7 linked regions of the Homo sapiens genome follow. The protein of the gene in region 4 purifies or fractionates together with the protein of the main gene of each other region. This does not show direct contact. Each region holds a gene or a part of one and is shown on either strand. Other genes may lie near its edges. The genes, in order: FLNC, CPOX, CTPS2, WARS1, MVK, HERC4 and CALU.

Region 1 (3,500 bases), on a different chromosome or scaffold from region 4:
CCAGATGGGGATCAAGTATGACGGCAACCACATCCCTGGTGAGTTAGGGGCTGGGCTGGGCTGGGGCTTGGGTGAGAGGAGCAGGCCGTAGCTTCAGTCCTGCCTTCCCTCTTTCAACAAATATTTATTGAGCACCCGCTGTGTGCAGACACCAGGCGAGGCCCCAGGGAGGCTTATACCCTGGTGGGAAGCAGACCTCCACCAGCTGGGTCCCTACGGCACAGACGGAGGGGGTTGGCAGGGAGGCTGCTGGAAGGTGCTGGGGCCAAGGTGGGCTCAGATAATCCCTGATGCTGACCCAGCCCCCTTTTTCTCTGTATCCCCAGGGAGCCCCTTACAGTTCTATGTGGATGCCATCAACAGCCGCCATGTCAGTGCCTATGGGCCAGGCCTGAGCCATGGCATGGTCAACAAGCCAGCCACCTTCACTATTGTCACCAAAGATGCTGGAGAAGGTGAGGGAGCTGCAGGTCGCAGGCTGGGGTGGAGACTCACCAGGGGCAGGGGTGAGGGCAGGACCTCTGATCTTGGCCACACCTCCACCTACAGGGGGTCTGTCACTGGCCGTGGAGGGCCCATCCAAGGCAGAGATCACCTGTAAGGACAACAAGGATGGCACCTGCACCGTGTCCTATCTGCCGACTGCGCCTGGAGACTACAGCATCATCGTGCGCTTCGATGACAAGCACATCCCGGGGAGCCCCTTCACAGCCAAGATCACAGGTGAGGCGGGTGTATGGGCATGTACAGCCCATGAGGCACACACACCGCATACAGTGCACTCATGTGCAAGCCCAGCCCGTTCAAGTCACTCGTGACATTAGGGCAGAGGCCCTTCAAGGTGTGAGGGGTCATATTTTGATAAATGTAAAAACACTCTGTTCTCCACGGCAGCTAAGAAGCAGTCAGCCACTCCTTGTGCCTGAAAACACATTGCCTCATTTAGTCTTTGAAGTCATTTGTTTTGTTTTTGTTTTTGAGAGGGAGTCTTGCTCTGTCACCCAGGCTGGAGTACAGTGGCACGATCTCGGCTCACTGCAACCTCCGCCTCCCGGGTTCATGCCATTCTTCTGCCTCAGCCTCCCAAGTAGCTGGGACTCCAGGCGCCCGCCACCATGCCTGGCTATTTTTTGTATTTTTAGTAGAGACAGGGTTTCACCGTGTTAGCCAGGATGGTCTCGATCTCCTGACCTTGTGATCCACCTGCCTCGGCCTCCCAAAGTGCTGGGATTACAGGTGTGAGCCACCACGCCCAGCATGAAGTCACTCTTAAGAAGTTAGGGCACGGATAATCCTTTTGATAGATAAGGAACCCCTGTCCCAGAGAGGCCAAGCAACATGATTACAGCCACACAGCGAGGAAGGGGTCTGGGCGGTCCAGTCTAGTGTTTTGTTATCACAACATCATGTGACTCAGGGTTAAAATGCAGGAGGTTTCCTTTAGGGATTTAGCCCACAAGGACTGAGGCAGCCACAGTGGAATTGGGGTACAGGCCCCTCTTAGTCTCTGGCAGCTCACATGTGAGTGCAGACTGCACTTTCCAGGCCTTGGGCCTCCGTGCACCTGGGAGTGGCCCCCCGTGTCTGTTGAGTCCAGGGGGGGCTGCTCAGGAGGGTTCCTGAGCCCTGTGAGGGCAGGGCCTGCCTGGAGTCATAGCAGCCTGATGCCCCAACTCCCCCACCAGGTGATGACTCCATGAGGACCTCACAGCTGAATGTGGGCACCTCCACGGACGTGTCACTGAAGATCACCGAGAGTGATCTGAGCCAGCTGACCGCCAGCATCCGTGCCCCCTCGGGCAACGAGGAGCCCTGCCTGCTGAAGCGCCTGCCCAACCGGCACATTGGTGAGCGTGGGGCCTCACGGGGACCTCAGGGGTGGGGGCCCACAGGATGCTCTGCCTAACACCCACTTTCCACAGGGATCTCCTTCACCCCCAAGGAGGTCGGGGAGCACGTGGTGAGCGTGCGCAAGAGTGGCAAGCATGTCACCAACAGCCCCTTCAAGATCCTGGTGGGGCCATCTGAGATCGGGGACGCCAGCAAGGTGCGGGTCTGGGGCAAGGGGCTTTCCGAGGGACACACATTCCAGGTGGCAGAGTTCATCGTGGACACTCGCAATGCAGGTACCTCCTGCCCCAGAGAGCCCCCATTCCAGCGGGTGCCTCCCACAGGCACTTGTCCTCGTCCTGCCCAGCACCCCCTTGGCCGCACTCTCTCCTCCCTGAAACTTCCTGACCAGTCTGCGTCAGGATTCGCATTCTGGGGCCCCTTGCGGGAAAGTGAATGGCCCCGCATCAGTTCTCTCCCTTTTAAGAGAAAGCTCAGCTGTCCTGAGTTTCTGTCCCTCCCTTGCTCACTGGAATCCAAGAGGCTTACCTTAGGGAATTTTCCAGACCGCCTGTCCCGTGGTGCCCCCGCTCCTCCCACTGAGCCATTTTTGTTAGTGGTCACTACACACATCGGTGCCCATTCTGGGTGGAGCCTGCAGTCTGGGGAGAGGAAAGCATTGTGGCTTGGCCAGCCTAGGACTGAGGGAGATGTGTTCCTTGCTTTCCCCCAGGTTATGGGGGCTTGGGGCTGAGTATTGAAGGCCCAAGCAAGGTGGACATCAACTGTGAGGACATGGAGGACGGGACATGCAAAGTCACCTACTGCCCCACCGAGCCCGGCACCTACATCATCAACATCAAGTTTGCTGACAAGCACGTGCCTGGTAAGGCTCTGGGCAGAGGTCGGTGGCGAGAGACAGGGAGGCCAGGAGGCTGGGGCTCTGAGGTTCCTGACCCACCCTTTGTCCCCACTTCAGGAAGCCCCTTCACTGTGAAGGTGACCGGCGAGGGCCGCATGAAGGAGAGCATCACCCGGCGGAGACAGGCACCTTCCATCGCCACCATCGGCAGCACCTGTGACCTCAACCTCAAGATCCCAGGTAGAAGCCTGGAGGACCCTGGGTGGGGCGGGTGGTGGGAGAGGGCTGGCCCGGGCCAGAGCCCACCTGTCGGGCCTCCACCCTGCTTCCTCACCCCTCGCTTCCCTCCCTCACCCTGGCTCCCTTGACCACACAGGAAACTGGTTCCAGATGGTGTCTGCCCAGGAGCGCCTGACACGCACCTTCACACGCAGCAGCCACACCTACACCCGCACGGAGCGCACGGAGATCAGCAAGACGCGGGGCGGGGAGACAAAGCGCGAGGTGCGGGTGGAGGAGTCCACCCAGGTCGGCGGGGACCCCTTCCCTGCTGTGTTTGGGGACTTCCTGGGCCGGGAGCGCCTGGGATCCTTCGGCAGCATCACCCGGCAGCAGGAGGGTGAGCACCGCACACTGGGCCGGCCGGGTCCTCACGGCGGGATGGGAGGGTGCTGCGGACCAGGCTTGATGCTGGCAGACTGGCCCCGAAGGCCAGGGCAGGTCTGAGCAGAGGAGGAGGTTTAACTGATGGGGGAGGGAAGGGCCAGGGCTAGGAGGAATCCCAGTGTTGCCCTGACATCCCCCAAAC
Region 2 (4,111 bases), on a different chromosome or scaffold from region 4:
ATATGATTTCCAAGTCAATTTTCAAAAGCTGCTTTTTAATTTGTCACTTAAAAACATAATTTTAAAAAAGTATTTGTCAACGTGCGGCATATGAACCCGAATGGCTTTTTTCAGAAGCAATATTTATTTTATAAATAAAACTTGTGGGCAAAATAAGGTTTGCAGGGACTATTAGAGACTATCAAGACTGTCTGATTTACCATCTTTAGTCTTCAGAACTTTTCCTCTGCTTCTCATTTGTTTTGCAGCTTCCTCTGAAAGATTTCCATGAACAACAGAAATGCTCACCCCAGCCTTTTCGAAAACACACCCATCTTGAAGTACACAGCTGATGCCGCCACCTCCTGTGTATAGAAATGTAAAAAAGGAGAGAATGTAAGAGTATGTGCAAAACTGAAAGCAACACTTGCATGAAGATGGTTATTTTCCCGTTTCCCAAATCTTTTATATCAGTGTATTTATCATTTTATGTACAATACAATTAGATAACTAGCTTAGCTTTATGACATATGCTATTAATATTGGGCAAATACTAGACCTTCTCATATCACTAAACTGAATATTTCTTCAACATTCTCCTGCCATCATCTAAAATAAATCACTGGAATATTCTCCCTTCAGATTCTACTGTTCAGAATGGCATCTATCAGTTATGATATATGAGAGAAAGCTAAGGTTAAAAATAGGAATGGGTAGACTTGAAGGGTGTTCTATTATTACTGAATTTAAGAGATCTATATTGTTTCAAAAATTTCTTTCTCAGTGGGCTGCTTGCCTTTTAATTTACAAGCAATTAAGAAACAGTAGGTAATCAAATTCTGAAGGGATTCAGAACCTTAGAGTGAGTGAGACGCACATTAGTATTCACGTGTATCAGCCTTACTAATTTTTTTTCTTAAGGTATTAGGGTCACTGCAAGGGCAATGTTTCATGAAAGTTCATGTTTGGCTTGTTTTATTTCTAAGAACATTTAGAGCTGGATGGGACATAAGATGATCCAGTACAACCCTCATATATTCCAAATGAGAAAACTGAGGACCAGAGGGGCAAAACATCTTATCCAAGATCAAACTGCTGACAAGTGGCTGCAACAATTTGTCTAAATGCTGTCTATGCTTCAGACAATATTCTAAGCACTTCACATATATTCCATCCATATATATATATATATATGTATATGGATATATATATATATATATGTAGTATGAGGATTAAAAGAGATGAAATACATATATATTTCATAGATGGGAAAACAGCCATAAAAAAGTAACTTCTGAGGATCACACAGCTGGTCTAGTACTTGAGGTTGTGTCCTGGTTCAGTGGTCTTTGCTTGAAAACATAAGATGGAAAACTAGACTGAACTTCATTTAATATAGATGTGTCAGTATCACAGCTCAAAATCTGCCGGTGAGAAGCTGCTGTTGTATTTCCAGCTAGGAAAAGTCAGGAATCTTTCAAGTTTCCACTCAAGATGTGGGGTTTCACTGTATGGGCAACAACATGGTCATGAATGTACGCCTCTACGAGAACTGGGTTTTGATGCTCAAGTATTTTGATATTGGAAGAGAAGATTTTCCTAGCAGGAAATCTGATGCGTGCATTTGGTAGTGCTACTGAGAAACGAATCAAATATATCTTGTGTAACAGTAAAAAGAAGTGGGAAGATTCTGACACAATGACATCCTGGCTGGAGGAGTTTAGCCGACACTTAGCGCACAGGAGATGAGTTCTTTCCATCTCCTAAAGAGGAAAAAGGGCAAATTCACCCAGAGAAGGAGAGAAAATGTGTTCCATAATCTATTGAAATTTATGTTCAGTAACGAACTTTGGACATCTAAGCTTGTTAGCTGCAAATACCCCTTAAGAGTTCTACAAAAAAATGCTGCTACGGAATTGCAAAGATTTTGAAATGCAGTACTACAGTGACAGCTGATCCGGGTCCATACCTGCAAGCAGAGGGCTAGTGACCCTTTCGTGTCCATCTTTTTATCAGCGGCCTCTAACCAAGCGGCCTCTCTGTGGGTACCCCCTACCTACCCCATCCCATATTGTGAACTATTATATTTTCTGTCTGCAACCTGGAACCTGACCCTTTTTCCCTGTCTCCAACTCCCGCCAGGGGCCGGCCTCCTTACCTTCCTTCCTCTCCCACCGGTCCACAGAAAAGTTGGCGCCCCCGTCTACCTGTGCCAGAGCCTGGCACACCTGGGCCTGGGTCTCCAGAATCAGCAGCTCCATCTTGGTCTTCATGTCGCCCGGCCTCCTTCGCAGCTCGCCCAGGTCGGTCACAGGCGGGGCCATGAAGCTGCTGCAGCGGTGGGCCAGCTCATCCTCCTCCTCCTCCGGCCTCCCCAGCGAAGTGGCCCGCGTCCCCGAGGTCTTAGGCAACATCTCCGCCCGCTGCACATGCCCGAAGGCGGCGGTGGCCAGCCCCACCAACCCCGCCAGCGCCGCGGCCAGCCCTGTCCCCACCCAGGGGCCGCCTCTCGACGTCGAGCCGTGCCCCAGCCCGCGGCTCTGCTCCGTGCCAGCCGGGCCAGGGGGCCGGCAGACGCGTCCGGCTGCGCTGCGCTGGGACCAGGCTCGGAGCCCTCCGCCGCCGCACTGGGACCAGGCGCGGGGCCCTCCGCAGCCGCCCCGCGCCACGAGCCAGCAGGGGCCCGAGCTCAGCCTGCCCAGCTGCAAGGCCATGTTCCCGCACTATCACCTGGAGCAGTGCCTGCGTCCCAGAGCCCTGCGTTTGAGCCCCCCACCCAGACCCCCGGAGTATTGAGCCGGCGAGCTGCACAGGCGGAAAGAACCTTTCGAGAAGAGCCGCTGCAGCGTCGGGCTCCGGAGGCGGGGGCGGGAACTGGGGCGCGCTGGGAGCTGTAGTCCGGATCCTATCGCCGCCTGCGGCGTCCCTGCGCGGGGCGGGAGATAAGAATCCGACGCGCCCAGAAGGGCTGGTCCGAAGGGAAGAGAGTGGGGCGGGGACGGTGCTGTGGAAGGGACGGGAGAGATAAAAGAGGCTTTCTTGTCACGTACAACCTCGGGTCGGCTGTTTACTCAGCCAAGGAGAGAAGATAGAGTAGGGCTGGGAGGCTGAGGGCGGACTGGGGCGGAAATGTGGCAGAGATCCCAGTCCCGCTTACATTTTCAAACAGGATTTGCGAATACAGAGCCTGGCTCAGGATCTGTATAGACCCGCCCTTCGCCCTGGGTCCTGGTCCTCTAGAGTTTTTAGAGGGGATGGGCAGGCTGGGAAACTCTTTGCTGAAGGATGGTTTTCTAAAGAGAGTGGGAGAAGCTAGTAATGGACTCGGAAGAGAGTCGAGGAGAAGACTTTCTGTGATCGAGTCCACATCACAGTTCTGTCCTTAAGATTTCCCCAGGCTGGGGCCGGGCGCGGTGGCTCAAGCCTGTAATGCTAGCATTTTGGAAAGCCGAGGCGGTTGGATCACATGAGGTCAGGAGTTCGAGACCAGCCAACATGGTGAAACCCTGTCTCTACTAAAACTACAAAAAAATAGCCGGGCGTGGCGGCGTGCACCTGTAGGCTCAGCTACTCGGGAGGCTGAGGCAGGAGAATCGCTTGAACCCGGGAGGCAGAGGTTGTAGTGAGCCGAGATCGCACCACTGCACTCCAGCCTGGGTGACAGAGTGAGACTCTGTCTCAGAAAAAAAAAAAAAAAAAAAAGGTTTCCCCAGGCCTTGCTTCTATAGTGCCTACTTGATTATTTTAGAAAAAGGAAAAGCAACGTGACTGTTTTGGTTAACCAGTAGAAAATTCCTGACTTGGTGTGTTTTGGTGATTAACAAATAAGAATTTAAAAAATAGTTATTCTACTACTGTAGGGTGCTCCCAAATATTGCTCACGTTTAATACTTACAACAACTGCTACAAACTAGGCAAGGCAAATATCCACACTTCCTCCTACTCTGTCTCCCTTCCCCCACCCTTTAAAGAAATGAGGAAAGAAGCTAATAGATTTGACAGGCAGGTCTTTGTCTCCCCTGTAACCATACCACAGCTCCATGGTTCCTGGACGTAAAAGTGTGAGAACTATTGTCATGGGCTAATTTGTCCCATAAGTCTCCGGGATGATTTTAATTTCTAGTAGTAGATA
Region 3 (3,500 bases), on a different chromosome or scaffold from region 4:
GTTAATGAATGCAGGATGAAACAAAACTAGCATAGCCAAAAGTTCCCATCCAAAATGATTTTCTTTAGGAAAAGTTAGCCAAATCTTAAAAACAAGCAAAACAAAACAAAACAAAAAACCTGTGAAGTTTAAAACTGTTTAAGGCCAGGCATGGTGGCTCATGCCTATAATCCCAGCACTTTGGGAGGCCAAGGTGGGCAGATCACTTGAGCCCAGGAGTTCAAGACCAGTGTGGGTAACATAGAAAAATCCCGTCTCTACAAAAAAAAAAAAATATATATTAGCCGGGTGTGGTGGTGTGTGCCTCTAGTCTCAGCTACTCAGGAGGCTGAAGTGGGAGGATGACTTGAGCCCAGGAGGTGGAGGTTGCAGTGAGCCGAGATCGTGCCACTGCACTCCCGCCTGGGTGACAGAGCAAGACTCTCAAAAAAGAAAAAAGAAAACAAACAAAAAAAAATTTTAAATATTCAGAAACTAAAAAATGAACTAGCAAATAAATCAAATAAATCAGAATCCTTCCAGAGCTAAAAAAACATTCCTTCCAGAATTCGAATTCCTTTAATTCACTTTGGTTTATGTATAACAAAATCAAAGGCTCCAGAAATCTTCAAATAATACAGCAAAGCACCGCAACAGTATGCTCCATCTTTAGACATATCCAGACCAAAATGTGCACACGCAAAATGCCAAATACACACGCTTACCCTTTCAAGTAGGTCTTAGTTCTACCCCCAAACTCAAAAATTATTAAAGATTATACAAGTAATTCCTTTCGCTTACCTGTCAGCCATATTTCTCCACTTAAAAAGCAAATTACTTGCAGAATCACCGATGGGCAGGTGCAATCTCTCCTTAAAATATTTCACAATGCTTTGTTCCTCTAAAAGCACAGGAACTCGGTATGTGGAAGAAACATCATGGATACATATGACCTAAGTGGCGATGAGAAATCACCATACTTAGATGGATCTATTCAAATATGCCACCACAAGAATGAAACAAAATTCAGCAGAGACTGGCAGTTTATTTACACTGATATAACACACACACACGCACACACAAAAACCCAGCAACCAAAGCTAGCATCAGAATTTGCACAAGGTTAGCTTCATTTAATTAGAAAACTAATCCCAGCACTATGGGAGGCCGAGGCGGGCAGATCACCTGATGTCAGGAGTTCGAGACCAGCCTGACCAACATGGTGAAACCCCACCTGTATTAAAAATGCAAAAATTAGCTGGGCATGGTGACATGTGCCTATAATCCCAGCAACTCAAGAGGCTGACGCAGGAGAATCGCTGGAACCCAGGAGGCGGAGGTTGCAGTGAGTCGAGATCGCACCATTGCATACCAGCCTGGGTGACAGAGCAAGACTGTATCTCAAAAAAAAAAAAGAAGTGTACACAAAACGATTGGACAGGTCAGGTGTGGTGGCTCACGCCTGTAATTCCAGCACTTTTGGAGGCTGAGGCAGGCGGATCATCTGAGGTCAGGAGTTCAAGACCAGCCTGGCCAACATGGTGAAACCCCATCTCTACTAAAAATACAAAAATTAGCCAGGCATGGTGACACACACCTATAATCCCAGCTACTCAGGAGGCTGAGGCAGGAGAATCGCTTGAACCCAGGAGGCAGAGGTTGCACTGAGCCAAGAGTGCACCACTGCATTCCAGCCTGGGTGACAATAGTGAAACTCTGTCTCAAAAAAAAAAAAAGATTGGACGCAAACAAAATGGCATGACAACATATCAACATACAGATGCAGAAGTGTCCCTTCAATCTGCCATCACATTTTTCAAAGTAGTTCAGACTTCGGCAATGACTCTGAGGCATCAGGCAGGGGGCTCTCCATCAGACTATTTTCCAAGATGCCAAAATTCAATTTGATCATTTTTAGACTTCAGAGAACCCAGAGTTATAATCTGAAGAAAAGATTTCTGCCAAACCTCACCCTTTTCCTGAGCACCATTTATATCACTCTCTTTAAACTATAGGTAACTCCAATCCCTTATAACCAAGCCTTATTGGAATCAAGAGACAGAGATGAGAGAAGGAAAGAAAAAAGAAAAGCGAATTATCAGAATACCAAGGTGGAAAGCCCTACAGAGCAGAGAACCTAAGCCCAAATCACAGTACAGTTTCTGTACCAATGAAGTCAACTGAGCCCACTGATGGAGTCAGAAGAGCTAGTGCGAATGTCAACGTGCTCGTGTGTTTGGGGTGACTTAAGCTGCCACAGGTAGAGAGGAGAAATGAGTGAAAGCAGTAAGTGTTCCAGAAGGAAACACAAGATAAAGAGATGATAAGTAGGCTTCATGTGGTTCTCTCTCTAGAGGTTTGACTGTGAGTTAAACACCCACCCTGGTACTGGGCACGATGGCTCACGCCTGTAATCCCAGCACTATGGGAGGCTGAGGCGGGCGGATCATCTGAGGTCAGGAGTTCGAGACCAGCCTGGCCAACATGGCAAAACCCCATCTCTACTAAAAATACAAAAAAATTAGCCAGGCGTGGTGGCGCATGCCTATAATCTCAGCTGCTCAGGAGGCTAAAATAAGAGAATTGCTTGAACCCAGGAGGCAGAGGTTGCGGTGAGCTGAGATCATGCCACTGCACTCCAGCCTGGGTGACAGAGTGACACTCTGTCTCAAGAAAAGAAAGCCCACCCTGGTTTTGTGACATAAGTTGAGTGATCATGCAAAGAAACATGCATCCTATCTCACTTAAGGGCTAGGGAATCATGGTTGGATCAGGGTTCCCCAGTGCTTGCATAAATGCCGTGAAAAGTAATATGATCATTGAAGAGGTACAAAACACTGGCATCAGCAGAAGTGCCTGCCAGACAATAAAATCTAAAGAGCAGCACCAACCTGTTCAGGGTTCACGTGACAAAACATAGAAATCTTCTCCTTCACGGCCATCTCAATGGGCGTTGAACTTCGGCAGACAATCTGTCAAAGCCAGTTATGCTTCAGCAAACAGGATTCACTTTCAGCAGGATGCCACATTCATTTCTTTTTACAAGAAACTTGGCCAAGTATGTACTTGTTCACTTTGGACATTCCACTGGACTATTAGAAATTGGTCTGAGCACTAATATAAGTATAATCAAATTCAGCATAAGTGTATCAGTAAGAACTCGAAACATCGAGACGTCTCTGGTGAACAGAGTCCAGGCTCACAAGTGTTGCTTCATTAACTACAAGAAAAGAGCTAGATCGGGGTTAACAAACTTTTTCTCAAAAGGGCCAGATGGGAAATATTTTAGGTTTGCAGGTGACACAGTCACTGTCCTGATCCTCAATTGAGGTGCAGTGTGAAAGCAGCTACAGACAATATGTAAATGAATGGGTGTGACTGCATGCCAATAAAACTTTACTTACAAAAACAGGCAAGCAAGTTGTGGGCTGTTATTTGTCAACCTCTGACAGAGACTACTGGTGATGACTGGATCACCTGCTATAAGGACACATCACTGTTTAGACTAAAAATAAGAGCAG
Region 4 (3,500 bases):
TAATCCTCCCCCGCGGCAGCTTTGTAGCTCATTTTTAATGACACCAACATCTTTACTGCAGAATCAATTTCATCCTGAGAGAGGAAATAAAAGGGATGGCTAAAAGTATTACTAATAGCTGATATGTGCTGAATGCCTATTCTGTGGCAGGCACTGTGTTAAATGCTTTTACACGTGTTACCTTAGTTAGTGTCACAACCCTACAAGGCAGGTATTGTTGTCACTGTCCTTTTCCAGCTCAAGAATCTGAGACTCAGAGAGGTAGAGGAGCTTACCCATAGAATCACAGCAAGTCATTGGCTCGAAAACACTTCATTTTTATCTGTTATTCTAGTGCTACCATGAACACTTTGGGACAGTAGCAGTGACACAATATACACTGTCATTTATGACAAAGTTCATATGCTAAAGATTTCTCAAACACCACTGATGCCAGAGAACGTGTGTGACAAGCTCCTTTAATTGAGATTCCTGGAGTTCTGCATTGGAACTAGTTTTTACATACCACACAGGTTGAGATGAATATTTACGTTAACTTAACCAATGATGCCACTAAGGATAGTAAGAGCAACTAAAACAGATAAAAGCAAGGACAAAAAATGTAGGCTCTCAGGTTATAAATTAAGGAGGGATTCACTGGGAAATAGTTACATCATCACATTTTGGAGTCTTATCAAACTATCTTGAAAAAAAAAAAACAAAGGTAAAATGTACCCTTGGGTAGTCTGGAAATGTATTAAAGACTCTTTTGCAGGAGTCCATAGTGGCCACCCCTGGAAGCCTGGTGTTTAGAAAAGCAGGCCTAATTAAGCTGATTAGTCATGCTATGCCCTAAAGCTCTATTCTGGTAATTGGCCTTGCTGGATTAGATCACAAACAAAGAATATACACAGCCCAATTTGCTTACCAAGGGAAATACAAACATTTCCACTTACAGTTTATACAGAACATTCTTTCTTTTAAATCTCCTTAAATTCCTTTTACCATATACAGAATGTTCTATAAACACCAACCTCCATTCAGAGATAACTATTCCATCAGATATAGCACTTGGGCCATAAAGGACTGTGATTCTGGAGTAATCTGTGTTTCAAACTACAAAATTATCTGAGACTCATCATTAAAATGAGCCAGATTTGTGGAATCAGTAACCCAATGGATACGATTCATAGATGAGATGTTTGCCCAGGTTAGATAGTTAAGTATGTTCCACCCATCTCATTTCTGTAGTACCTAGGCTCAGTACTTGCAAAAAATAACAGTTTAGTACGTATAATCTATCCAATTATCTATGGGAAGGCTTACCTTGCTTTGAAGTACACTGCAGTCAATATCACTTAATAACTAGCTTTGTTGACATTTCATACTCTATCTGGTCTAATTCTGCTTGTAACTAGGAGGCTCTGCGAAAGTCAAACATTTAACCAATGTCCCTGCTCAAGGACCATCTGCATTTTGGAATAGCACCAAAATAAGACAAGCAGGCTTACCTTGTCTATTTTCTTATAATCAGTCTTAATCAGTGTCTGAACCAGGACACTGAAACAGGATTCAAAAGCTGATGTTAGCTGGGTGCAGTGGCTCACACCTGTAATCCCAGCACTTTGGGAGGCCAAGGCGGGCGGATCGCCTGAGCTCATAAGTTCGAGACCACCCTAGGCAACATGGCAAAACCCTGTCTCTACCAAAAATAGAAAAAATTAGCCAGGTGTGGTGGCACACACCTGTGTTCCTAGCTCATCGGGAGGCTGAAGTCAGAGGATTGCTTGAGCCAGGGAGGCAGAGGTTGCAGTGAGCCGAGATTGCACCACTGCACTCCAACCTGGGTGATGAAGTGAGATCCCCACCCCACAAAAAACCCAGAACATCAGTTTTTTTTAGACAGGGTCTCACTTCAGTCTCCTGAGTAGCTGGGACTGCAGGTGTGTGCCACCATGTCTGGCTAATTTTTAAATTTTTTGTAGAGACAGGGTCTCACTATATTATCCAGGCTGGTCCCAAACTCTTGGCCTGAAGCGATCCTCCTGCCTTGGCCTCCTAAGTGCTGGGATTATAGGCATGAGCCACGGAGCCTCGCCAAAAGCTGATGTTCAGAAAAAAAAGCCAGACACAAGACTGTATTACATACAGTTCAAACCCAGGTAGAGCTACCCCTGGTGGGAGGAGTCATGGCAGAGGCTGAGGCGCGTGAGGGTGGCTTCTAGGTGCTCTCTGCTTGCTGTTGATTTGGGTGCTGGTTACACAGGTGTGGTCATTTTGTGAAAATTCAGTGAGGTGCCTGCTTGTGCTTATGATCAGCATGTTTTTCTATATGAATGGTATATTTTGATTTTAGAAGTTACTTAAACAAAAAGGAGAAGAAGAAAAAGGCTCTGCTCTCTTTCTTAATACCTAAGACCTAGCATTGCTTCTTTAGTCCTGCTCAAACTATTTCCCCTCACAGCCCTCAGATGCTGACTTATTTCCCCCTAGGAAACTTGCCGCTTTAATGAGCTGCTGCTACTGAAGGATGTGGATCTTATTCTTTAGATACACTGGAGCAGAAAAGACCTTCAAGGTCCATGGCCTAGATAAATGGCAGGAGAAGAAAGAGCTCAAGGTGCCCTCTCTTAGAACTGGCACTCCCAATGTGGCTCACACTATTTTGCTAAAAGTTAATTTTTAAAATTTCCAAAACATCAAGTGCTTCTACTACCAAGACATTTCAGGGTCAGATACAAATGTACTTCTGAATTTTTCACCACTTAACTCTGGTCTCATTGTGCAACCTCTGATGTCTTCAACGTGTGCCAGCCAATTGCATTAGTCAAATAATACACTTGGAAGAGTTATTATAAAATGTATTAAGTTGACTAAAATAATGAACATAACTGCAGTCACTAAGAATTACTAACTAAAAACATTTACTAAATGTTATTCAAATTTAATATTAAATGGACAAAAATACCACTGTCAACTTCCCAAAATGATGGGCTTACATAACCCCACTGGGTCTTTTATTTATTTTATAATTTTGTTTTAAAACAACTTGGTTTAATCGTTTGAGGCCTACCTGGTGAGTAAATCTCTTTCTGTAAAAAAGTAACTTTTTTTTGACATTACTTTCTTTCAGTACTATTTATTTCATTTAAAATATGAGCTGGGTGCAGTGGCTTGCATCTATAATTCCAGCAACTTGGCAGGCTAAGGTGGGAGCCCAGGAGTTTGAGGGTGCACTGAGCTAGGATTGCACCACTGCACTCCAACGTGGAAAGAGCGAGACCCTGTCTCAAAAAATACACACACACACACACACACACACACACACACACACACAAATAATGATTTAAATCAGGGTCCCAAATAGTCAAAGTAAACTACTGGGGAATGTGAGATGGTTGACACAATCTGGTGACAAGCAAGGTGTTTGAAAAGATAACAGATAACAGGAGTTAAAAGTGTCGGAAGTCGGGCCGGGCGTGGTGGCTCACACCTGTCATCCCAGTACTTTGGGAGGCTGA
Region 5 (3,500 bases), on a different chromosome or scaffold from region 4:
GCAATATGTGACTTCAAAGCAGGTGTTTCTCAACAGGTGCTGGAGAGGATGTGGAGAAATAGGAACACTTTTACACTGTTGGTGGGACTGTAAACTAGTTCAACCATTGTGGAAGTCAGTGTGGCGATTCCTCAGGGATGTAGAACTAGAAATACCATTTGACCCAGCCATCCCATTACTGGGTATATACCCAAAGGACTATAAATCATGCTGCTATAAAGACACATGCACACGTGTGTTTATTGCAGCACTATTCACAATAGCAAAGACTTGGAACCCACCCAAATGTCCAACAATGATAGACTGGATTAAGAAAATGTGGCACATATACACCATGGAACACTATGCAGCCATAAAAAATGATGAGTTCATGTCCTTTGTAGGGACATGGATGAAATTGGAAATCATCATTCTCAGTAAACTATCGCAAGAACAAAAAACCAAACACCGCATATTCTCACTCATAGGTGGGAATTGAACAATGAGAACACATGGACACAGGAAGGGGAACATCACACTCTGGGGACTGTGGTGGGATGGGGGGAGAGGGGAGGGATAGCATTAGGAGATATACCTAATGCTAAATGATGAGCTAATGGGTGCAGCACACCAGCATGGCACATGTATACATATGTAACTAACCTGCACATTGTGCACATGTACCCTAAAACTTAAAGTATAATAATAATAAAAGAAAAAAAAAACAGACCAAGGATCCAGAGCTACCTAATTACATTTAATAAATGATAATATAGTTAAAAAAACAAAAACAAAAACAAACCAGGTGTTTCTGTAAGAGTACGATGGGCTGAATTGCTGGGGGCTGGGGCGGGGTGGTGGTGCCTGAAGGACAAGGGGAGCCAGCTGGGCAAGGTGTGTGTGTGGGGTGCATTCCAGACACACCACTTGTGCAGCACTGGAACCACACCAGAGCTGGCTGGCCCTTCCCAGGGACCAACAGGTGGCAGCGTGCCTGGGATGAAGTGAGTGATGGAGGCGGGGGAAGGTAACTCAGGCAGCTGACCTAGCCCAGGGCCTGGCCCTCTCAACAAATGTGAGTCTTCCTCCTGCTCTACACAGTTTGTTTTTTAGGGGGCTCAGATTTGAGTCTTCAAAGGAGACTGGGCTCCAGTCCTTTCCGACTCAGAAACACATGATGGGTGGGGTGTGGTGGGGTGGGGTGGGGTGGGAGGTCTACTCTCCCTAAGGGTTCTGAGAAGGAATGACTGGCCTTCAGGGGAAGGTGGGAGAAATGGTTAGAAGCAGCATAAGAACACACACACATGCAAGTGCACACACACAGTCACCCTCCACCTTTTGAAAGACAGGGCCAGTCCTTTGGCCCGTGGAAAATCACTTGAACCTGGAGGCAGAGGTTGCAGTGAGCCAAGATCACACCACTGCACTCCAGCCTGGGTGACAGAGCGAGACTCCATCTCAAAAAACAAACAAACAAACAAACAAACAAACAAACAAAAAAACCAAGCTCAGAAAACAAAACAAAACAAAACAAAAACAAGCCCAGGAAGAGGACAGAGCTCTGCATTTGGGGGCCTCATCCACAACTCCTGGTCCTGGGACAAACTGCGTAACCTCTGCGCACTGGGTGGTTTCTCAAGGAACATTCTCCTAATGATAGAAATGGTCTGTGGTCAAGCCTGTCTGGACAGGCCTCACTGACTCACGTGGTCAATAGGAACGCAGAGAGGTGACACGCCCTCCGTGGAGACGGCCCCGTAGGAGGAGAGATGCCCTAGTCTAATGGGCACACCCCCTAATGTGGATTTCTCAGCAAACTCTTAGTTTCTTTCATAACCATGTGGTAAAACTGGACAATCACCCCTAGGGCACTGTCATTACCATACAGAGGAGAACACTGTCCTAGCCTGAGTCAATGCAGAGGTGGGAGGGTTCATCTAACCTGCTGCCCTCTAGATCTGGACTCCAGCTCTTTCTACCATACCATGGGCGCTTGAAACCAACAGAGCCAAGATGGGGGTGAGCAGAGGTGGTGGAGAGCAGGAGAGAAAAGCTCAGACTCTGAGTTCAAATCCCACTCTGCCAGCACTAGCTGTGTGGCCCTGGGCCAGCCATTTGACCTCTCGGGGCTCAGCTTCCTCATGTTAAAATGGCCACTATGACACCTCTCACCTCACAGGGAGGTGGTGAGGTCTCAGTGAGAGAAGCCACGTCCCTGTCCTGCCGTGCGGGAGGGACACTGGCCAGGTAAGGACCATGGTTACCTGTTGACGCAATCCCCGTCCTTCAGCGGGTTTGGGATCTCCTCGCACACAGTCAGGAGGGCTGCTGCCAGACACACCGAGTAGGCGGCGCTGGAGCCCAAGCCCGCCCCGGGGGGCAGCTCCGACCACACTACGATATCCAGGCTCGGCAGGGCCCTGAAACACACCAGGGTGTGAAACGTGACTCTCCCGCAGGGCAGTGGGGTGCCAGCACTGAACCAGGGGCCAGGCCCAGGCCTGACTCCAAGCATCTGGTCCAGTTTTCTCAACTGGGGGAGAATTCCTGACCCCAAATGTATCCCTATTGAACATCAGGAACTCATGCTGAATCAGACAACTAGAAAACAGGTATCAAGTTCATTTAAATCCCTGGGTCATTCAACCAGAGCCCTTCCCAGAAGCACCTGGCAAGCTGTCAACCCCTTTCTCCCACCTCCTTCCTGTGCCCACATGCTAGGCTTTTCTGTGGGCCTGCTCTGAGCACAGGCTGGCCCCTCTGCCTGCAATAGCCGTGCACCTCCTTATCCCACAGAGAAATCCCTACCCATCTCTCAAGGCCTTATCAAATGTCGCTTCCACTGTGACACTTTCCGTAGCTGCCCACAAAGACCCTCCTGGCTCCCCTTCTAGGACCCCCGCCTGCCCTCCCTCCCTCCACCGCTGCCTCACCACCGCACACTAGGATTGTGTGTTCACCGGGGCCTCTCCCGCCAGACGGTGCTCCCCAACCATGTGTAACACGGGTCTGCTTTTGATCACCAGAAAGGTCCGAATCGCTACATCTTACATGTATTTCCCCCAAGCAAGAACTGTCAAACTTCATGTTTGGTAATTTCCACGAAGTGCTTTTCCCATTTCCCAAATAGAAAAATTGTAATAATGTGCGTCTTCAAATTCCACGTACCCACCCCACCCAGCCTGGAAGATTCTGGAATGCCCCTCACCCACTTAAGGGGACATGCCTCTCTCAAGTTGAAATTCTGCTTCGGACGGCAAGTATCAGGCCGTTTCCGAATGTGTCCTCAGCATAGAGCCTGGCCACTGAGCCAGCATCTGCTGCTCAAGGGAAGGGCTGCCCCCTTGAGGTTTTTTTCCCTTTGGGTTCTGGACAAAAACAAAAACAACAAAAACAACAACAGAGAGGCTGGGGCCGGGTGCAGTCGCTCATGCCTCTAATCCCAGCACTTTCAGAGGCCAAGGCAGTTGGATCACATGAGCCCAGGAGTTTGAGACCAGCCTGGGCAACACAGTGAGACT
Region 6 (4,163 bases), on a different chromosome or scaffold from region 4:
GAAGCTAGCAGAGAAGCCTGGAAAAGATTATCTCTCAGAGACCCCAAGAGAGAACCAAGCTTACTTTCACCTTGATTTTGAACTGGTCTTCAGAACTGTGAGACAATAAATTTCTGTTGTTTTAAGCCACCGAATCTGTTTTAATTTATATGGCAAGCCTAGGACACGAATACACACACTTGAACATATTCTAGCACAGACAGTTCTTATCTAAAACATGTTTTTCAACAAGAGATAAAGAAACAGGCCAGGACCGGTGGCTCACGCCTGTAATTCCAGCACTTTGGGAGGCCGAGGCGGGTGGATCGCCTGAGGTAACGAGTTTGAGACCAGCCTGGCCAATATGGCGAAACCTTGTCTCTACTAAAAATGCAAAAATTAGCCGGGCATGGCGGCGCATGCCCGTTGTCCCAGCTACTCAGGAGGCTAAGGCGGAAGTTCCAGTGAACTGAGATCGCACCATTGCACTCCAGCCTTGGGGAACAGAGCGAGACTCTGTCTCAATAAATAAATAAATAAATAAATAAATAAAAATAAGAAAAGAAAAAGAAAGATGGCCTATTTGTGGAACTTCTTCTAGGTACTGAATATTCATTCTAGCAATACCCAACTTACAATTTCAAAAGTGCATTGTTTCAAGTTCTCCTGCTTTTTAAGAAGTTAAGGCTGGCCTAGGAGATCCAGACTTCGTTTTTATGAATCAGGGACTGCAGCCAATGTGTAATTTTCTCTGATAGAATGAGACCCTGCAATTCAAGCCTATCTTTCAGGGAGAGTGTAGAAAGTGATGGTAGCCAACACTGTACAAGGAAACTGAACTGGTGGTGGTGGTAGTAGAGTAGCTTCAGCCATTGCCATCAACACATCTCACATCCTCAGACTGGCTCCAGTTGAGGCCATGGGATAAAATAACTCTTCACCAGTCTTTATGTTCATAATTGTGATGTTTCATCTGCTACTTTAAAATCTCCTTGGGAAAAGAGAGAGTAAAATAATAAAAAGACTAGCTAGCATCCATGAGCACAAAGACAACCAAACCAAAAAACAAAGTGATTTTCTTCATTAAAAGGCTTTGTGCACGCCGAAGCATTCTCAAAAACAGTTGACATCTTCTTCGTTTGTCTTCGCAAACTCCAACTTTCTGTATTTGGCTTTTCCCTCTTAAAGCAACGCAAAGCGGCACACTGCGCAGGCGCCTGTGGCCAGCCACCCCCCCCCCCCCCCCCCCGGAAGATTCGGCGCAGGCGCCGGTGCCGGGGCCGGGAAGTGGGCGGGCTCGCGCGCGTGCTCTGCGGTTCACTTCCGGCCAGCCCCTCCCCCGCCTCCCTCGCGTGGCCACCTCCCCCTCTGCCTTCTCCTACCCAGTCTCTTCCCCAACTCTCCCCACCCCTGGTGCTCTCCGCCCCGCTTGCCTCCCGTTCTTCCCCGCCCGCTCCATCCGGGTCGCTGACGGCTGTCTCTGGACTGGACAGCAGTGGCGTCCGCTTTTCTCTAAGGAACCCGGTAAAGTTTCCCAGGGGCCGGGGAGGGGAGCAGCGGAGCAGCGGCACAGACGCCGGAGGTGCCCTGGTGATCGTCGCCACTGGCTGACAGAGGAGGGTCCCAGGAGCCGGAGACGTGCTTCAGCGACCGCGCTGCCTTGCTCTCTGGGCAGGGGCCGCCCCCCGTCACCTTGGGCTTCCCCTACCCTGAAGGGCTTGGGCGAGTTGTGGCCCCAGCGGGTTCGGGGGCGTGTGACGGCGTTAGGGAGGGGCAGGCCGGGCTGGGCGGATGCAGGCCGGCCCGGCATAGGGCGCTTTCTCCGCGCTTCCTGGGGGTGAGGGGCGTGGGGCGAGGGCAGGGCTGTGGCTCCCTGGCCCCGGGGCTGGAATGTCTCATCTGCCTGGGGATGGGCTTCTCTCAGGTTGAGGCCGCGCACTGCCAAGCCTCGGCCGCCGGCCTCTGAAGCTGTTGCGAGCGGCCGGTTGCGGTAGTCGTCTGCTTGGCTGCGAGGTTGGGTGTGTGCAGATGATTTCTCTTTCCCAGTCCCCATGAGCTGATCTGGGTGCACGTTCAGGGAAAGACGGGACTAAACTGCTTCTCATTTCCCTACCTGTTGCTGGCGAGAGGACGCCTCTGTGTTTTAAAGAAAAGGGTGGTTAAACCTCGCGCGCTGAAGTCGGGGTATTTTCCTGTATTACTCTTATTTTGTTTTTAAATATGGGAAGACAATGCAGAACTCTTGGGAATTATCGAGTTCTGATACCCCAAAAGAATGAAATCAAACTTCTGTTAATGGGATGATGGGTCGTGGAATGGGACACCTTGGGCACTTGCTAACAGGAACATAGGAAAATTGGAGTTGAAACTTCGCAGGCTCTGTAAGAATGTGGATGACTGCTACAGAATAAGGCTGACTTCCTGTAATTATGATATTTAGTAACGCGATGTGTTTAAAAGTCTACGTATGTATAGATGAAGTGGACTCTGTTATTTGTGTCTTTCTTTACAAGTGAGGAAATATTCAGTCAGTGTGCTGGAAAGTTCTACAGATTTCGCCATCAGACTATCCATTCCTATTCTTGAAAAATCTGCAGTGCTGGAGTTATTTGCAATTCCCCCCCGCCAATCTTTAAATAATTGTCTCAGAGATATAGATAGATATAGATTGCCCACGGGTGATTTTTTTAATCCCGGTTACCACTTGTAATAAAAGAGGTTGAATTTTGGAGAGAATTGATATTTAAATTGCATGTTTTTTTTTCTGTATTATAATTATGCACATTGATTTAGTTTTAAAATTAGTGAGGTTGGAATGTTAGTATTTTGATTTGAAATCTGGGATCTTTGGAGGTGATTTAAGATTATGGTTTGGTAAGAGAATCTTCATTTTCTCTCTGGGCTAAAGAGTAATTGGGAGAGTCGTTTAAATTGTGGAAAATTGCTTTAAATTTCCATTATTGGTTTTATTTCTGTTACAGATAAGAACTCCATTTTCTGTTGATGTGGAGGTAGGTATTAGAAAGCTTAATTATACTAGGATTGCAAGGTTATGTTTCTGCAGTTGGCTAAATTTTGCACTGTGTATATTTGCTTTTTGGGCAGAGGAAAGATGTCTTATTTCTTGTTCCCATTGAAATTATTTAAAGCAAAAAGTAGAAAAAATTGTGATTAATTTCATCAAGGTACTTATTCCTATTAGTTTAGTCTATCACAAGATAACCAGAAGTCAAAACTAGTTAATATGTTTTAAATTTTGCAAAGGATCATAGAAAGTGTCATATTTTCCCTAAAAATTTCTGTATGATACATTTTAAAAAATACAACTGATTGGTTTTTGAAACTGAATGATACTTATGTAGCATGTTATAAAGTATATTTAATGTTTACCATGTAGCAATTATTGTAGCCTAGCACTTGAAAGAGCAATTATACATCCTTTTTTCTTTGAAGTCATATTAACTTCTTTCTATTTCCTCAGACATAGGGTACCTCCAACTTTCCGGGGTTTCAGAAGAGAATTTTTTATTGAAACTGGAAGACCAAAATAATTACAAGCATGTTGTGCTGGGGAAATGCATCCTTTGGGCAGCTAGGTTTGGGTGGAATTGATGAAGAAATTGTACTAGAGCCCAGAAAAAGTGACTTCTTTATAAATAAAAGGGTCCGAGATGTAGGATGTGGACTCAGACATACTGTGTTTGTTCTGGATGATGGAACAGTGTACACATGTGGATGTAATGATCTAGGACAGCTAGGTCATGAAAAATCCAGAAAGAAACCAGGTAAGTTGAAATGTTTTTAAAATTTGCTATTTTTAATAATTATATCATTTTAAATTTGAATCATCGTATAATTTCTCTAGTTGTAACTATATGTTTATCAAGCTTTAAAAGCAAAGTAGAAGTTATGTATTTCCATTATATGTGTATATTTGTATGGTTCTAAGTACTTTATGTTGTGGTTTCTTTTTTTTTACTACTAGTATTATAAAACCTTATTTTGTATGACGATATAAAACAATAAAGAAAATCAGCCTGCAGTATATAAATCTTTGGTACAGAGTGTGTAGTGTGCAGGTCCTCTTTAATAAATTCTGTTCAGCCACCCTGGATAGATTTTAAATGCATAATTTACTCTGTGTTTACCTTACTTTGGGAGGGGGGAGGAAAACAAGACGGAAG
Region 7 (3,500 bases), on a different chromosome or scaffold from region 4:
CGGGGTTTCACCAGGTTGGTCAGGCTGGTGTCTAACTCCTGACCTTGTGATCCGCCCACCTCAGCCTCCCAAAGTGTTGGGATTACAGGCATGAGCCACCATGCTCGGCCGAATTTCTATTTTTAAAAGACTCAGTCTATTTGATGATTTGAAGGTATTATTAATTTTCTTGGGTTGACATTATCTTTAAAAAAATGTTTTTAGAAACACATATATATTTTAGACATATATACCTCAATGTTTACAGATGAAATGACATAATGATTGGGATTTACTTCAAAGTAAGAAGGAAGCAAGGAAGTGGATGTGGCTGAGAAAAAACTGGCTGTAAGTTGATTGTTGTTGAGGTTAGGCATAGGTACATGGGGATTCATTATACTATTCTAATTTGGGGGCAGGTGCAGTGGCTCACACTTGTAATCCCAGCACTTTGGGAGGCTAAGGTGGTCAGATCACTTGAGGCCAGGAGTTCAAGATCACCCTGGCCAACATGGTGAAACCCCGCCTCTATTAAAAATACAAAAATTAGCCAGGTGTGGTGGTGCATGCCTGTAATCCCAACTACTCAGGAGGCTGAGGCACAAGAATCGCCTGAACCTGGGAGGCAGAGATTGTAGTGAGTGGAGATCACGCCACTGCACTCCAGCCTGGGTGACAGAGCAAGACTGTCTCAAAAAAAACATAAATAAATAAACAAATAAGTTGTGTACGTCTGCAATGCTCTATAATAAATTTTAAAAATAAAAATAATTATCAGCACAACTTTGGGTGTTTTTTTTTTTCTTTCCCTATGTTTCCACAGGCACTGATGGGGCTTCTTTTTAATGCTAAATTTATGAGGCGAAGAACTTTGTTTCTTCATGATCTCCTTCAACAGGGCACTAGAAGCTGAAAGATACTGTTTGGGAGAATTTTAGATTTACAAAGCCCAGCATCCCAGATGTAAAAGTGTTTGCATTAGTTACTGACTTGTAAAAAAAAAAAAAAAAAGCACACATGCACAAGATAGTTTTGGTAGCTTCAAAATATAACTCCTCTGCCCTTGAATCTATATGATACACAGGGAGACAGAAATATCTCCTTATTTGGCCTCAATGCTTGATAAGTGATGTAGTTAACAGTTATAAAAATTCCTCTCCTTGGGAGGTTCAAATGAGTTCCTCAGTTTTAGCAATGGCAATAAAATGGCAAAAGCCAAGAATAAAAAGATAAATCATTTAAAAGTAGAAAACCCTAGTAACATCAACGTGGGCTCAGTAAATGCACCTAGGCACTTATCCACTGTCCTGATAAACTTCTCCAAAAAAAAAAAAAATCAGTTTAGGAAAACATCCATCCTATCTTCCATTGCTCATCCTTCTTTAAAAAGTTCAAAGTATGCCACTGAACCTAAGAAAAGGGAGGTAAACAGTCAAGGAGTAATTCAATTGGAATAACTCTAGCATGTAAACAACAGGTATGATAAGACAACATCTAAGTAAAGCAGTGACTTGCTCCATACAGTTTAATGACAGGTGATAGAGGTAAGGATTAAGTCTTCCTTTCAGGCTTCAAATAAACATTTCAGGTAACTATCAGAGGTCTAAAAACAAACGGGCTTATCTGAAACACAAAACCAATGGTGTGCTAGAATAAGTTATTACAAATGACAATAAGTATGTGAAATATTAAAATATCTAATATCTTTCTAAACAAAGTATTTGTAACAATGACATTTGTAGTAACAGTCTTATACTTTCCATCTTTACTCACTTTTCTAAAGAGATGGAGTCTCGCTATGTTGCTCAGGTTGGAGTACAATTGCTATCCACAGGCACAACCTCACTACTAATCAGCACAGTTTTGACCTGCTCTGATTCTGTCCCGGGCCGGTTCACTCCTCCTTAGGCAACCTGGTGATCCTCTGCTCCCAGGAGGTCACCATATTGATGATGAACTTGTGACTATAGTCCAGACTCTTGGACTCAAGTGATCCTCCTGCCTCAGCCTCCCAAGTAACCGGGTATGCCACCACACCCAGCTCCTTTACTCATTTTAATTTCTGTCACAGTAATTGGGAAACAATTTGCTCAACTACTTGGTAAGAAAGACAGCTTTTTTTTTTTAAAGCAATGAGAATATCTTAAAATTAGTCTGATGATAATAAAACAGAGCTTTACTTGGGAGAAATTAGCCTTGAAGGTGTGACATCCAAAACAATTTTTTTAAAAAAATTTAGACAACTAAAAAGGGAAATGTCAAAAGGGAGAAACTTAAAAAACAAAAGGAAAGTAGTCAGAGAATCAGAGAGAAAATATGAACAGAACACAGTAAAAAGGAATGGCTACAAGAGGGATCAGCAACTCCCCGTCATTTATTTATCCATCTTTTAATCTATTCCCTATCTCCTTTCCCTGGGTTTCCCTATGTCAGTCTGGGCTCCCTGCAACTCTTTTTTTTGTTTGTTTGTTTGAGACGGAGTCTCGCTCTGTAGCCCCGGCTGGAGTGCAGTGGCATGATCTCAGCTTACTGCAAGCTCTGCCTCCTGGGTTCATGCCATTCTCCTGCCTCAGCGTCCCCAGTAGCTGGGACTACAGGCGCCTGCCACTACACCCGGCTAATTTTTTGTATTTTTAGTAGAGACAGGGTTTCACTGTGTTAGCCAGGATGGTCTCGATCTCCTGACCTTGTGATCCGCCCGCCTCGGCCTCCCAAAGTGCTGGGATTACAGGCGTGAGCCACCGTGCCCAGCCCCCTGCAACTCTTTACCATCAGTTCCATAGAGCATGCAGGATACACTATATCTGTGCTGTTGAGGATGGTAGCCACAGGTGCTTATTAAGCACTTGAAATGTGGCTGGGATGTGCTTTAAGTATTAAAAAAAAACCCTCAATAATTTACATTAAGTGGAAATTATAGAGTTTTAGAATATTAGGTTAAATAACTACTGAAATTTCATCTGTTTCTTTTTACTTTTTAATGTGGCTATTAGAAAAGTTAAAATTACATATGGGGCTCACATTTATATTTTGATTGGGCAATGTGGCTACGGATACTTTATCACAACCCACTATCACACTGGTCTGGTTAATGATCTGGTGACAGCTAATGAGCTAGTGAGAATTGACCCTTGGAGTAAATTGTTTCTATGGGCAAATACATCTTTCTTTCTTTCTTTTTTTGAGACAGTTTCACTCTTGTTGCCCAGGCTGGAGTGCAATGGCGTGTTCTCGGCTCACTGCAACCTCCGCCTCCTGGGTTCAAGCGATTCTTCTGCCTCAGCCTCCTGAGTAGCTGGGATTACAGGCGCCCGCCACCACACCCAACTAATTTTTTTGTATTTTTAGTAGAGACGGGGTTTCCCCATGTTGGCCAGGCTGGACTTGGACTCCTGACCTCAGGTGATCTGCCCGCCTCGGCCTCCCAGTGTTGGGATTACAGGCATGAGCCACTGTGCCCAGCCAGCAAATACACCTTTCAAAGCTTCTCAGCTTTTCTAAGAAAAACACTAAAAGCAGAG

What was found.
Region 1: the proteins of WARS1 (region 4) and FLNC fractionate together in Homo sapiens (co-fractionation; one large-scale study listed by BioGRID). This does not show direct contact.
Region 2: the proteins of WARS1 (region 4) and CPOX fractionate together in Homo sapiens (co-fractionation; one large-scale study listed by BioGRID). This does not show direct contact.
Region 3: the proteins of WARS1 (region 4) and CTPS2 fractionate together in Homo sapiens (co-fractionation; one large-scale study listed by BioGRID). This does not show direct contact.
Region 5: the proteins of WARS1 (region 4) and MVK fractionate together in Homo sapiens (co-fractionation; one large-scale study listed by BioGRID). This does not show direct contact.
Region 6: the proteins of WARS1 (region 4) and HERC4 fractionate together in Homo sapiens (co-fractionation; one large-scale study listed by BioGRID). This does not show direct contact.
Region 7: the proteins of WARS1 (region 4) and CALU fractionate together in Homo sapiens (co-fractionation; one large-scale study listed by BioGRID). This does not show direct contact.

What each region holds. Positions count from the first base shown.
Region 1 is NC_000007.14:128,850,906-128,854,405, forward strand, and holds part of FLNC (filamin-C), read left to right. Parts: coding exon 1-38; intron 39-326; coding exon 327-455; intron 456-495; exon of another isoform or gene 496-549; coding exon 550-723; intron 724-1,685; coding exon 1,686-1,847; intron 1,848-1,922; coding exon 1,923-2,126; intron 2,127-2,379; exon of another isoform or gene 2,380-2,492; intron 2,493-2,563; coding exon 2,564-2,716; intron 2,717-2,809; coding exon 2,810-2,932; intron 2,933-3,068; coding exon 3,069-3,311; intron 3,312-3,500.
Region 2 is NC_000003.12:98,590,812-98,594,922, forward strand, and holds the start of CPOX (oxygen-dependent coproporphyrinogen-III oxidase, mitochondrial precursor), read right to left. Parts: upstream 2,801-4,111; 5' UTR 2,694-2,800; coding exon 2,138-2,693; intron 345-2,137; coding exon 201-344; intron 1-200. UniProt on the Homo sapiens protein: Catalyzes the aerobic oxidative decarboxylation of propionate groups of rings A and B of coproporphyrinogen-III to yield the vinyl groups in protoporphyrinogen-IX and participates to the sixth step in the heme biosynthetic pathway.
Region 3 is NC_000023.11:16,688,670-16,692,169, forward strand, and holds part of CTPS2 (CTP synthase 2), read right to left. Parts: intron 2,952-3,500; coding exon 2,871-2,951; intron 933-2,870; coding exon 781-932; intron 1-780. UniProt on the Homo sapiens protein: Catalyzes the ATP-dependent amination of UTP to CTP with either L-glutamine or ammonia as the source of nitrogen. Constitutes the rate-limiting enzyme in the synthesis of cytosine nucleotides.
Region 4 is NC_000014.9:100,361,848-100,365,347, forward strand, and holds part of WARS1 (tryptophan--tRNA ligase, cytoplasmic), read right to left. Parts: intron 75-3,500; coding exon 1-74. UniProt on the Homo sapiens protein: Catalyzes the attachment of tryptophan to tRNA(Trp) in a two-step reaction: tryptophan is first activated by ATP to form Trp-AMP and then transferred to the acceptor end of the tRNA(Trp).
Region 5 is NC_000012.12:109,580,294-109,583,793, reverse strand, and holds part of MVK (mevalonate kinase), read right to left. Parts: intron 2,400-3,500; coding exon 2,244-2,399; intron 1-2,243. UniProt on the Homo sapiens protein: Catalyzes the phosphorylation of mevalonate to mevalonate 5-phosphate, a key step in isoprenoid and cholesterol biosynthesis.
Region 6 is NC_000010.11:68,072,484-68,076,646, reverse strand, and holds the start of HERC4 (probable E3 ubiquitin-protein ligase HERC4), read left to right. Parts: upstream 1-1,363; 5' UTR 1,364-1,503; exon of another isoform or gene 1,504-2,960; 5' UTR 2,961-2,990; exon of another isoform or gene 2,991-3,460; 5' UTR 3,461-3,538; coding exon 3,539-3,764; intron 3,765-4,163. UniProt on the Homo sapiens protein: Probable E3 ubiquitin-protein ligase involved in either protein trafficking or in the distribution of cellular structures. Required for spermatozoon maturation and fertility, and for the removal of the cytoplasmic droplet of the spermatozoon.
Region 7 is NC_000007.14:128,759,859-128,763,358, reverse strand, and holds part of CALU (calumenin isoform a precursor), read right to left. Parts: intron 1-3,500. UniProt on the Homo sapiens protein: Involved in regulation of vitamin K-dependent carboxylation of multiple N-terminal glutamate residues. Seems to inhibit gamma-carboxylase GGCX. Binds 7 calcium ions with a low affinity.